Linked DNA regions of Homo sapiens: region 2 is linked to region 1. The links come from fine-mapping of genetic effects on gene expression. A gene starts in region 1. The other region holds a variant in brackets. All regions are shown on one strand. Distances are between the middles of the regions. Region 1 holds the start of PDE6G (phosphodiesterase 6G). Region 2 overlaps NPLOC4 (NPL4 homolog, ubiquitin recognition factor).

Region 1 (5,365 bases):
CCATGCCTGGCCTATTTTACTATTTCAGAGTTGAGGTCTCGCTCTGTCACCCAGGTTAAAGTGCAATGGTACAATAATAGCTCTCTGCAGCCTTGAATTCCTGCAGCCACCGATATTTCACTTCTGCATTCCAGCCTAGGTGACAGAGCCAGATCCTGTCTCTCAAAAAAAAAAAAAAAAAAAAAAGATATGGATTGCAATCTTGTTTCCTCTGGGGCTGAGTGAGGGATTGAGCCATGTGGGACAAGAGGTTTTTGACTTGTTCCATTTATTGCAGCATAACTTGAATCCAGCCGTCCTTTCTGGACTAGTGATTTTTGCCAGTCTCATGGCTAGAGTTTTACAATCAAGGCTATAGGGTCTTTGTTTAGGTCTATTTGGAGCTTTATGTATTTTCATGTGATTGTCTTTGTATATTGTCTGTGATACATGATACCAAAAAAGGAGTACTCATACATTTTATTTTATTTTACTATTTATATTTTTATTATTATTTTTTGAGACAGAGTCTCACTGTTGCCCAGGCTGGAGTGCAGTGGTGCAATCTCAGCTCACTGCAACCTCCACCTCCTGGGTTCAAGCGATTCTCCTGCCTCAGCCTCCTGAGTAACTGGGACTACAGGTGCATGCCACCACGCCCAGCTAATTTTTGTATTTTTAGTAGAGACAGGGTTTCACCATGTTGGCCAGGCTGGTCTTGAACTCCTGATCTCAAGTAATCCACCTGCCTCGGCCTCCCAAAGTGCTGAGATTACAGGCGTGAGCCACCATGCCCGTCCAGGTTTTATTTTTAATTTTTCAAAATTTTCATATTTCTTCAGAGATAGGGTCTCTCTCTGTCCCCCAGGCTGGAGTGGTTTGACCATGGCTCACTGCAGCCTCGAGCTCCTAGGCTCAAGGGATCCTCCTGCCTCAGCCTCCCAAGTAGCTGGGTCTATAGAAGTGAGCCACTGTGGCCAGGCACGGTGGCTCACACCTGTAATCCCAGCACTTCGGGAGGCCAAAGTGGGCAGATCACGAGGTCAGGAGATTGAGACCATCCTGGCTAACATGGTGAAACCCTGTCTCTACTAAAAATATTAAAAATTAGCTGGGCGTGGTGGTGGGAGCCTGTAATCCCAGCTACTCAGGAGGCCGAGGCAGGAGAATCACTTGAACTCAGGAGGCAGAGGTTGCAGTGAGCCGAGATCAGGCCACTGCACTCCAGCCTGGGCAACAGAGCGAGACTCAGTCTCAAAAATGAAATAATAAAATAAGAAGTGAGCCACTGCACCTAGCTAATTTTTTCTATTTTTTGTAGAGATGGGGGGGTCTCACTATGTTGTCCAGGCTGGTCTTGAACTCCTGGCCTCAAGTGATCCTCCTGCCTCAGCCTCCCAAAGCGCTGTTTGAGAGCCACTGCTCCCGGCCGAGTTATGGGTTTTTATTTATTTATTTATTTATTTATTTATTCATTTGAAACAGAATCTCGCTCTGTCGCCCAGGCTCTAGTGCGGTGGCGCGATCTCGGCTCACTGCAAGCTCCGCCTCCCGGGTTCACGCCATTCTCCTGCCTCAGCCTCCCAAGTAGCTGGGATTACAGGTACATGCCACCACGCCCGGCTAATTTTTTTGTATTTTTAGTAGAGTCGGGGTTTCACCATGTTAGCAAGGATGGTCTCGATCTCCTGACCTTGTGATCCACCTGCCTCAGCCTCCCAAAGTGCTGGGATTACAGGCATGAGCCACCACACCAGGCCTGAGTTATGGGTTTTTAAAGGTGCAGAGGCAGAGGTCACAGGCAAGTCATAAATCAGTACATGGAGGTTGTACACTGGTTTTGCCATAAATAGCAAGGAGATCTTGAAGCCAGGGACCACGGGTCATAGGTGGATTCAAAGGTTTTCTGATTTGGTGCAGAAGCGAATCTTTGTCTAAAACTTTGGGATCCGCAGGAAAGAATGTTAGCTCTGGGTTGTGGGCATGGCCTCCTCCAGGCCCCTCAGGATGGGCATAGCCTCCTCCAGGCCCCTCAGGAAGAAATTTAGGTAAGAGAAGGGTGGTCAGAGGCCAGTCCTCAGCTCCCGCTCATGTGAGGTCTGTGTGCCAGCACGCCCCTTTGGTGGGAGTCCCTGTTTCTGGAAAACAACTGAGGAGCACCTGCTAAGATGGCATGGTTTGCTTCTGTGGAGACTCTCGGGACTCTGGCTTCCATCTGTTGTTCTAAGCTCCTGTGACCTTCTTGTGACCTTCCTGTGGATCGGCTGCTCATTTCCTTCTCTGGGCTGGCTGGGGGCCTGGCTTGCCCTTGAAGGAACTCAACATTGTCCTTGCTTCTGTGCTTGGGAAGACCCACAGGCCCCTAAGGGCGGGGGGGGGTCCTTGTTTGGTTTCAGGAGCAGCAGGTGCAAAGGCCCTGGGGTGGGAGGGGTGAGATGTGAGGCCACAGCAGCGGGTGAGGGCCAGGCTGCAGAGGGTTTTGGGGACCATGAAGGTGGGCCCTTCAGAGATCAGGCAGGGTCAGGAAAGGCAGTAGGGAGGCCCAAGACAGCAGACACTGTGGTTGCTTCCATCTGGAAGATGGGCAGCTGCAGGAGCCTGGCTGTTCAGGGTCACACTTCTCTCCCTGTCCCGGCCCCATCTGCTGGGTGTCCTTCCTTGGAGCCCTTGACAGCACCTGAGCCCCTCCTCTCCATCCCCTGAACCTTGGTGGTTGTGCCCCCCCTCGGGGCCCAACAATCTCATTAGGGTGGCACTGAGACGCCTAATCAGCTCATGAAGCAGCGAGATAAAGGCCGGGGCTGGCACCCTGCGGAGGGAGGCCCAGCACTCACAGCACAGCCCCCTGAGACCCGCCCTGCACTTGGTGAGTAGTGGCCAACCCCGCTGTCTTTCCTGGCAGCCACTTCCCCCAGTGAGTCAGTGGGGGTCTGCTCATCACCCAAGGGGCAGAGGGAGCTGACAGGCTTTTACCACCGTGGCTGAGGTCTGGGTCTGCAGATGCCTACCCGCCACCCTGTTATTCAGAGGGGACTCCCAGCCAACCTCCTCCTCTGCTCCCCCATGGTAACCAGTGCTTCCACCATCCCCAGGCCAGTGATGGTCTGGGAACCTCAGGCCACGTGGGCTCAGCTGACCTGAGTGGACGCCAGTCACAGGCTGGGTCGGGCCAGGGCAGCGCAGGCAGCGGTTTCCACATGGATGGCATCTGATGGTTGGAGCTCCATCAGGGCCCAGAGCTGCCCAGGACAGCCCATGTCCCAGGGCTGGAGAAGCAGCTGGACGGGGCCTGTGCTATCTAGGATATGAGGATTGGGTGCCATGGGATCTGAGCAGCTGGGACCACCGGGCTCCTGAGTGCTGGTTTTGCACAGGCTGGTGCTGGTCCCAGTCCCGGGGACAGAGGCTGAACCTTAGTGAGGGAAGGTGCCATGGCAGGGTCCACCCCAATCCCAGGTGCCCAGCACCCCTTGCAGAGCCCGCGTCCCCAAAATGGGCCACCTGCCCTTGCTTTCTGATCACTCTCACGCCTGAAGCTCGGCAAACAGCTGGTAGTAGCCCAGGGCTGGAGTCAGGAATCCCAGCCAAAAAGACCAGGGGCAGGAAAGGGGACCCCAAGAGGTGGTCCCTGGGGCATCCAGTGCGGGCAAGCAGCCCCTCCTGTCTGTGTCATGTGCCTCCTTCCAGAACTTTCCGGCAGCATGTGCAGCTGACAGCAGCTCGATGGGAGATTAGGAATTCCCCTCTGCTGTTAATAGGCTTAGGGGAAGCTGAACTGCCCTTGGCCCAGGTCACTGGGGCTTAGGGCATCTGGGGAGAGGCTGTAGGGAGAGGAGGAGGAGAGGCCACCCTGTGCAGCAGTGCAGGGACACTGATCTCGTCCAGAGCGGCCGAGGCCCTTCAGCCACGCCACGCCACGCCAGGCGGGTGACCCTGCTCCCCGAGCTGACTCCAGACACAGAGAGGGCCTGGTGATTCCCCCAGCAGGGGGAACACATGCCCGGCACCCTCCGTCCCCAAGCCCCAGCTTGTCCCTCTATGAAGTGGGGTTGGGGAACGCAGGGCTTCACAGCTCAGCACCAAGTCTCTGAGACAGGCCCCTTTCCCAGGGGCGCCGTGCCTGGGGACCCTGCCCCCCATTTTGTGGGTCATTCTCCATCAGCACTGCGGGGTGCCCGTCATGGTGCTGAGGGGCTCAGGGATGCCTCCGTGAGTGGGTGAAGGGAACTGACAGCACCCCAACTGCAAAGCACAGACAAGAGGCAGAAAGCAATAAACCCATCAATAAGAATCAGAGGGGTTGGCCGGGCGCAGTGGCTCACGCCTGTAATCCCAGCACTTTGGGAGGCCAAGGTGGGTGGATCACGAGGTCAGGAGATCGAGACCATCCTGGCTAACATGGTGAAACTCCATCTCTACTAAAAAATACAAAAAAAAAAATAAATTAGCCGGGCGTGGTGTCGGGCGCCTGTAGTCCCAGCTACTGGGGAGGCTGAGGCAGGAGAATGACGTGAACCCAGGAGGTGGAGCTTGCAGTGAGCTGAGATCGTGCCACTGCACTCTAGCCTGGGCAACAGAGCGAGACTCCGTCTAAAAAAAAAAAAAAGGTGAGATTCCAGCCACAGCTCTGGAATAGGATCCTAGGGGGCTACTTTGGCAGGTATTAAAACTTTTTTAGGCCGGGCGCGGTGGCTCACGCCTGTAATCCCTGCACTTTGGGAGGCCGAGGCGGGTGGATCACAAGGTCAGGAGTTTGAGACCAGCCTGACCAAGATGGTGAAACCCCATCTGTACTAAAAACACAAAGAAAAATTAGCTGGGTGTGGTGGCGCATGCCTGTAATCTGAGCTACTCCGGAGGCTGAGGCAGGAGAATTACTTGAACCCGGGAGGCAGAAGTTGCAGTGAGCCAAGATCTCGCCACTGCACTCCAACCTGGGTGACAGAGCAAGACTCTGTCTCAAAAAAAAAAAAAAAAAAGAATCAGAGGGCAACAGCCCGGGAGACGCCCACCAGCCTGGAATCAGGGCTAACTCGACGCGTGATGAGAAGCGGCAAATCAGAACCTAAGGACACAGTGGCTGCAGGGCGGGGGTTCAGGGGAGACCTCCCTGAGCGGGAACTTGAGATGGAGGCAGCCCACTAACCATCAGGAAGGGCAGCTCAGAGGCAGGCTCCTCTGCTGGGCCTGGCAGGCCCATTCCCAGCAGGAGCCACAGAGGACTTTCATCAGAGTAGCAGCTGGGCCGGGTGCGGTGGCTCACGCCTGTAATACCAGCACTTTGGGAGGCTGAGGCGGGTGGATCATGAGGTCAGGAGTTCGAGACAACCTCGTCAACATGGTGAAACCCCGTCTCTACTAAAAATGCAAAAATGCAAAGATTAGC
Region 2 (5,365 bases), 31 kb after region 1:
TTGGCTCACTGCAAGCTCCGCCTCCCGGGTTCACGCCACTCTCCTGCCTCAGCCTCCCGAGTAGCTGGACTACAGGCGCCCACCACCATGCCTGGCTAATTTTTTGTATTTTTAGTAGAGACGGGATTTCACCATGTTAGCCAGGATGGTCTTCATCTCCTGACCTCGTGATCTGCCCGCCTTGGCCTCCCAAGGATATTTTCATTCAATACAAATTTCTTTTTTTGAGATGGAGTCTTTTTCTGTCGCCCAGGCTGGAATGTGGTGGCGTGATCTCGGCTCAGTGCAACCTCCGCCTCCTGGGTTCCAGCAGTTCTCCTGCCTCAGCCTCCCAAGTAGCTGGGATTACAGGTGTGCACCACAATACCTGGCTAATTTTTGTTTTTGTTTTTTGAGACAGAGTTTCGCTCTTGTTGCCCAGGCTGGAGTGTGATGGCATGATCTTGGCTCATTGCAGCCTCTGCCTCCTGTGTTCAAGCAATTCTCCTGCCTCAGCCTCCCGGGTTCAAGCAATTCTGCCTCAGCCTTCCGAGTAGCTGGGATTACAGGCATACGCCACCAAGTCCGGCTAAGTTTGTCTTTTTAATAGAGATGGAGTTTCACCATGTTGGTCAGGCTGGTCTCGAACTCCTGACCTCAGGTGATCCACCCGCCTTGGCCTCCCAAAGTGCTGGGGTTACAGGCGTGAGCCACTGCACCTGGCCTCAAAACAGATTTCTGAGTTGACAGTTCATTTTTGTTCCCCACCATGCATCAATTTTTTTTTTTTTTTGAGACGGAGTCTTTCTGTTGCCCAGGCTGGAATGCAGTGGCGCGATCTCGGCTCACTGCAAGCTCTGCCTCCCAGGTTCATGCCATTTCCCTGCCTCAGCCTCCCGAGTAGCTGGGACTACAGGCACCCGCCACCATGCCCGGCTAATGTTTTTTGTGTTTTTAGTAGAGATGGGGTTTCACTGTGTTAGTGAGGATGGTCTCGATCTCCTGACCTCATGATCCGCCTGCCTCGGCCTCCCAATGTGCCGGGATTACAAGAGTGAGCCACCACACCTGGCCCTTTTTCTTTTTTTTTTTTGAGACGAAGTCTCATTGTGTCGCCCAAGCTGGAGTGCAGCGGCACAATCTTGCCTCACTGCAACCTCCGCCTCCCGGGTTCAAGTGATTCTGTTGCCTCAGCCTCCCGAGTAGCTGGGACTACAGGCTCGCACCACCATGCCCAGCTGATTTTTGTATTTTTAGTAGAGACGAGGTTTCACTATGTTGGCCAGTCTGGTCTCGAATTCCTGATCTCAGGTGATCCGCCCGCCTCAGCCTCCCAAAGTGCTGGGATTACAGGTATGATCCACCCTCACCCAGTCCATTTTAAAATTATTATTATTATTATTTTTGCCTAGGTTGGAGTGCACTGGCAAAGTCACAGCTCACTGCAGCCTTGACTTCCCGGGCTCAAACGATCCTCCCACGTGAGCTTCCTAGCTAATTTCTTAATTTTTTGGTAGAGATGGGGTTTCACCATGTTGTCTAGGCTGGTCTTGATTTCCTCAAGTGATCCTCCCCACTCTGTCTCCTGGATGCTGGGATTCCAGGCGGGAGCCGCGGTGCCTGGTCCTGTTGAGCATTTGAAGCTGTCGTTCCACCGTCTTCTTGGTCTTCTCGTCTTCGTTGACCTCTGGCTTTCAGTAGGGTGACTCTGGTGTGCCTTGCAGTGGTGTTCTTTGTATCTTAACTTGAGAGAGTTTGCTGAACTTCCTGGAGTTGCTATTTGATGTTTTTCATTAAATTTTGGGGTTTTCCCCACTCTTAAGTATTTTTCTGTTCTATTTTCATTCTTTTCTTTTTTTTTTTTCTTGAGATGGAGTCTCGCTCTGTTGCCCAGGCTGGAGTGCAGTGGCGCGATCTTGGCTGACTGCAACCTCCGCCTCCGGGGTTCAAGCGGTTTTCCTGGCTCAGCCTCCCGAGTAACTGAGATTACAGGCACGTGCCAGCTCACCTGGCTAATTTTTTTTTTTTTTTTTTGAGATGAAGTCTCACTCTGTCGCTTGGGCTGGAGTGCAGTGGCGCAATCTCTGCCCACTGCAACCTCCACCTCCCAGGTTCAAGCGATTCTCCTGTTTCAGCCTCCTGAGTAGCTGGGATTACAGGGGTGCACCACCACACCTGTCTAATTTTTGTATTTTTAGTAGAGATGGGATTTCACCATGTTGGCCAGGCTGGTCTCAAACTCCTGACTTCAGGTGATCTGCCCAACT[C/T]GGCCTCCCAAAGTGTTGGGATTACAGGCTTGAACCTCCGCGCCCAACCCTCATTTTTTTCTAGTGAGGAGCATTTGATCCTGTACCATGGGTTCCTAAGGCTGTTTTTTTTTTCCCCAAATCTCTGCCTTCAGATTATATAGCTGTTATTTTTATTGATTCATTTATGTTTTTCTTTTTAGAGTTGGTTGGATTCTCACTCTGTCGCTCAGGCTGGAGTGCAGTGGTGTGATCATATCTCATTGTAGCCTTAAACTTCTGGGCTCAAGCAGTGCTTCCACCTCAGCCTTCCGAGTTGCTGGGACCACAAGCTATTCACCTATGTTTAGGTTGACTCTTCTGCTCTCTCCCTTCTGCTGATAAGCCCGTTCAGTGAATTTTTTATTTCTGTTCTTGTGTTTTTCAGTTCTAGAATTTCCATTTGATTGTTCTTTTATGATTTGTTTCTTTACCGAGATTCACATTCCTTTTATTTGGGTACATCTACTCTGATGACCCCTCGGTGTAGAGCTCTTGCTCTGGCCCCTTGCCTGGGCTCAGACACAGATGCGCCCACCTGCCTGCTGGACGGCTTCACTGCAGTGTGTCTGGTTGTCACCTCCGATCTCAGTGTCAAATGGAAGTCCTGATTTTCCCTCTAGTCTTCTTCCTTTTTTAGCCTTTCCTTTCATGGTCCCTGCACAGGTGTTACCTCCACATAGTTTCTCAATCTAGAATTCTCAGCTTTACTCTGACCTCCTTCCTTTCTCTCATTCCATTCCTGCCCCTGGTCCTGCTCGTCAGCTGGGCCTGGTGATGACCACTGCTGGAAAGTGTGCTCTTGCCTTCATCCCCACCATCCTGTCCCATCTCATCCCCTGTCTCAGCCCATCTCTCTTGTCTCTAATTGGCACTCTAGCTTCCTCTTCAGTGTGGTGTTGAGCAACAGGGATTTTGTGGATGATGATTCCCCCTGCCTTTCGTCTGTGTGGCTTCCCACGGCCCTGTCTGCCTCGCCAGCCTCATCTCTTTCCATCTTCCTTATTGTTTATTGGCCTCTGGCCTCCGTGTTTCCAACACCCTTCCTGCCTCCTGGTCTTTGTGCTTGCTCCTACTCCCTGTGGCCTTTTCTCCCAGCTCGCGTGTGGCGGGCTTACCCACCGCTGGGTGGGCCCTGCTCAGCTGAAGCTCTTCAGAGAGACTTCTAGCCTCCCATCTGAGGTTTCTTTTCCTTTTCTGTCGTAGTGCTTATTTCGACCTTTGTTGACTTTGTCTCCCCCATTTGTTGGTAAACTGCTTGACAGCAGGAACCTTGTCTTTTTTTTGTTTTTCTTTTTTTGAGGTGGAGTCTTGTTCCGTTGCCCAGGCTAGAGTGTAATGGCGTGATCTCATCTCACTGCAGCTCCGCCTCCCAGGTCGAAGTGATTCTCCTGTCTCAGCCCACCGACTAGCTGGGACTGTAGGCGTGCACCACCATGCCTGGCTAATTTTTGTCTTTGTTTTTGTTTTTGTTTTTTTGAGACGGAGTTTCACTCTTGTCGCCCAGGCTGGAGTGCAATGGCGCCATCTTGGCTCACTGCAACCTCTGCCTTCTGGTTTCAAGCAATTCTCTTGCCGCAGCCTCCTGAGTAGCTGGGATAACAAGTGTCCGCCACCACGCCTAGCTAATTTTTGTATTTTAGTAGAAATGGGGTTTCATCAAGGTGGCCAGGCTGGCCTCGATCTCCTGACCTCGTGATCCGCCCACCTCGGCCTCCCAGAGTGCTGGGATTACAGGCGTGAGTCACCACACCTGGCCTAATTTTTGTATTTTTAGGAGAGATGGGGTTTCACCATGTTGGTCAGGCTGGTCTTGAACTCCTGACTTGAAGTGATCCACCCGCCTTGGCCTCCCGAAGTGCTGGGATTGCAGACATGAGCCACCACGCCCGGCCAGAAACCTTGTCTTTTCTAGTTCATTTTTGTGATCTGAACACCCAGAATGGAGCTGAGCACATAGAACTGCTTAATATTTGTTGAAGGAATGAGTGAATATTCCCAGCATCTAGCAAAGTGCCCTGCACAGTGGACGTTTTATGATTTAGTCGCACCATTCTGTGTTAGGTTTCAGAATTGGAATTGAGTTTTGTTTTTTTTTTTGAGACGGAGTCTCGCTCTGTCGTCCTGGCTGGAGTGCAGTGGCGCGATCTCGGCTCACTGCAAGCTCCGCCTCCCGGGTTCACGCCACTCTCCTGCCTCAGCCTCCCGAGTAGCTGGGACTGCAGGCGCCCACCACCACGCCCGGCTAATTTTTTGTATTTTTAGTAGAGACGGGGTTTCACCGTGTTAGCCAGGATGGTCTCGATCTCCTGACCTCATGATCCGCCTGCCTCGGCCTCCCAAAATGCTGGGATTACAGGCGTCAGCCACCGCGCCCGGCCGGGTTTTTTATTTTTTTGAGACAGAGTTTTGCTTTTTTTTTTTTTTTTTTTTGAAACAAAGTCTTGCTCTGTCACCCAGGCTGGAGTGCAGTGGCATGATCTCGACTCACTGCAGCCTCTACCTCCCAGGCCCAAGCAGTTCTGCCTCAGCCTCCCGGGTAGCTGGGATTACAGGTGTGCGCCACCATGCCTGGCTAATTTTTGTATTTTTAGTAGAGACGGTTTCACTATGTTGACCAGGCTGGTGTCGAACTCCTGGCCTCGTGATCCACCTGCTTTGGCCTCCCATAGTGCTGAGATTACAGGTGTGAGCCTCCACACCCGGCCAGAGTTTTGCTCTTGTTGCCCAAGCTGGAGTGGAATAGCACGATCTCGGCTCCCTGCAACCTCTGCCTCCCAGCTTCAAGTGATTCTCCTGCTTCAGCCTCACGGGTAGCTGGGATTACAGGCATGTGCCACCATGCCTGGCTAATTTTGTAGTTTTAGTAGAAACGGGGATTCACCATGTTGGTCAGGCTGGTCTCGAACTCCTAACCTCAGGTGATACTCCCACCTCATCCTCCCAAAGTGCTGGGATTACAGGCATGAGCCACCACGCCTGGCCTGGAATTGGGTTTTTACAATTGAATTCAAAAATGGAAATTGAACTTTTCAAACATAGCCATTGGCCATGCATGGTGGCTCACGCCTGTAATCCCAGTACTTTGGGAGGCCAAGGTG

What was found.
Region 2: its variant is fine-mapped to the expression of PDE6G in whole blood (INTERVAL, PIP above 0.99).

What each region holds. Positions count from the first base shown.
Region 1 is chr17:81,653,973-81,659,337 of GRCh38, reverse strand. PDE6G (phosphodiesterase 6G) reads left to right here and starts at 2,796. Exons shown (of 4, transcript NM_002602.4): 1 at 2,796-2,845.
Region 2 is chr17:81,622,797-81,628,161 of GRCh38, reverse strand. All of the region lies in intron 2 of NPLOC4 (NPL4 homolog, ubiquitin recognition factor), which reads left to right. Among named protein-coding and RNA genes, the nearest start is that of NPLOC4, 12 kb to the left of the region's middle. The variant C/T (reference allele first, on the strand shown) is at 2,247.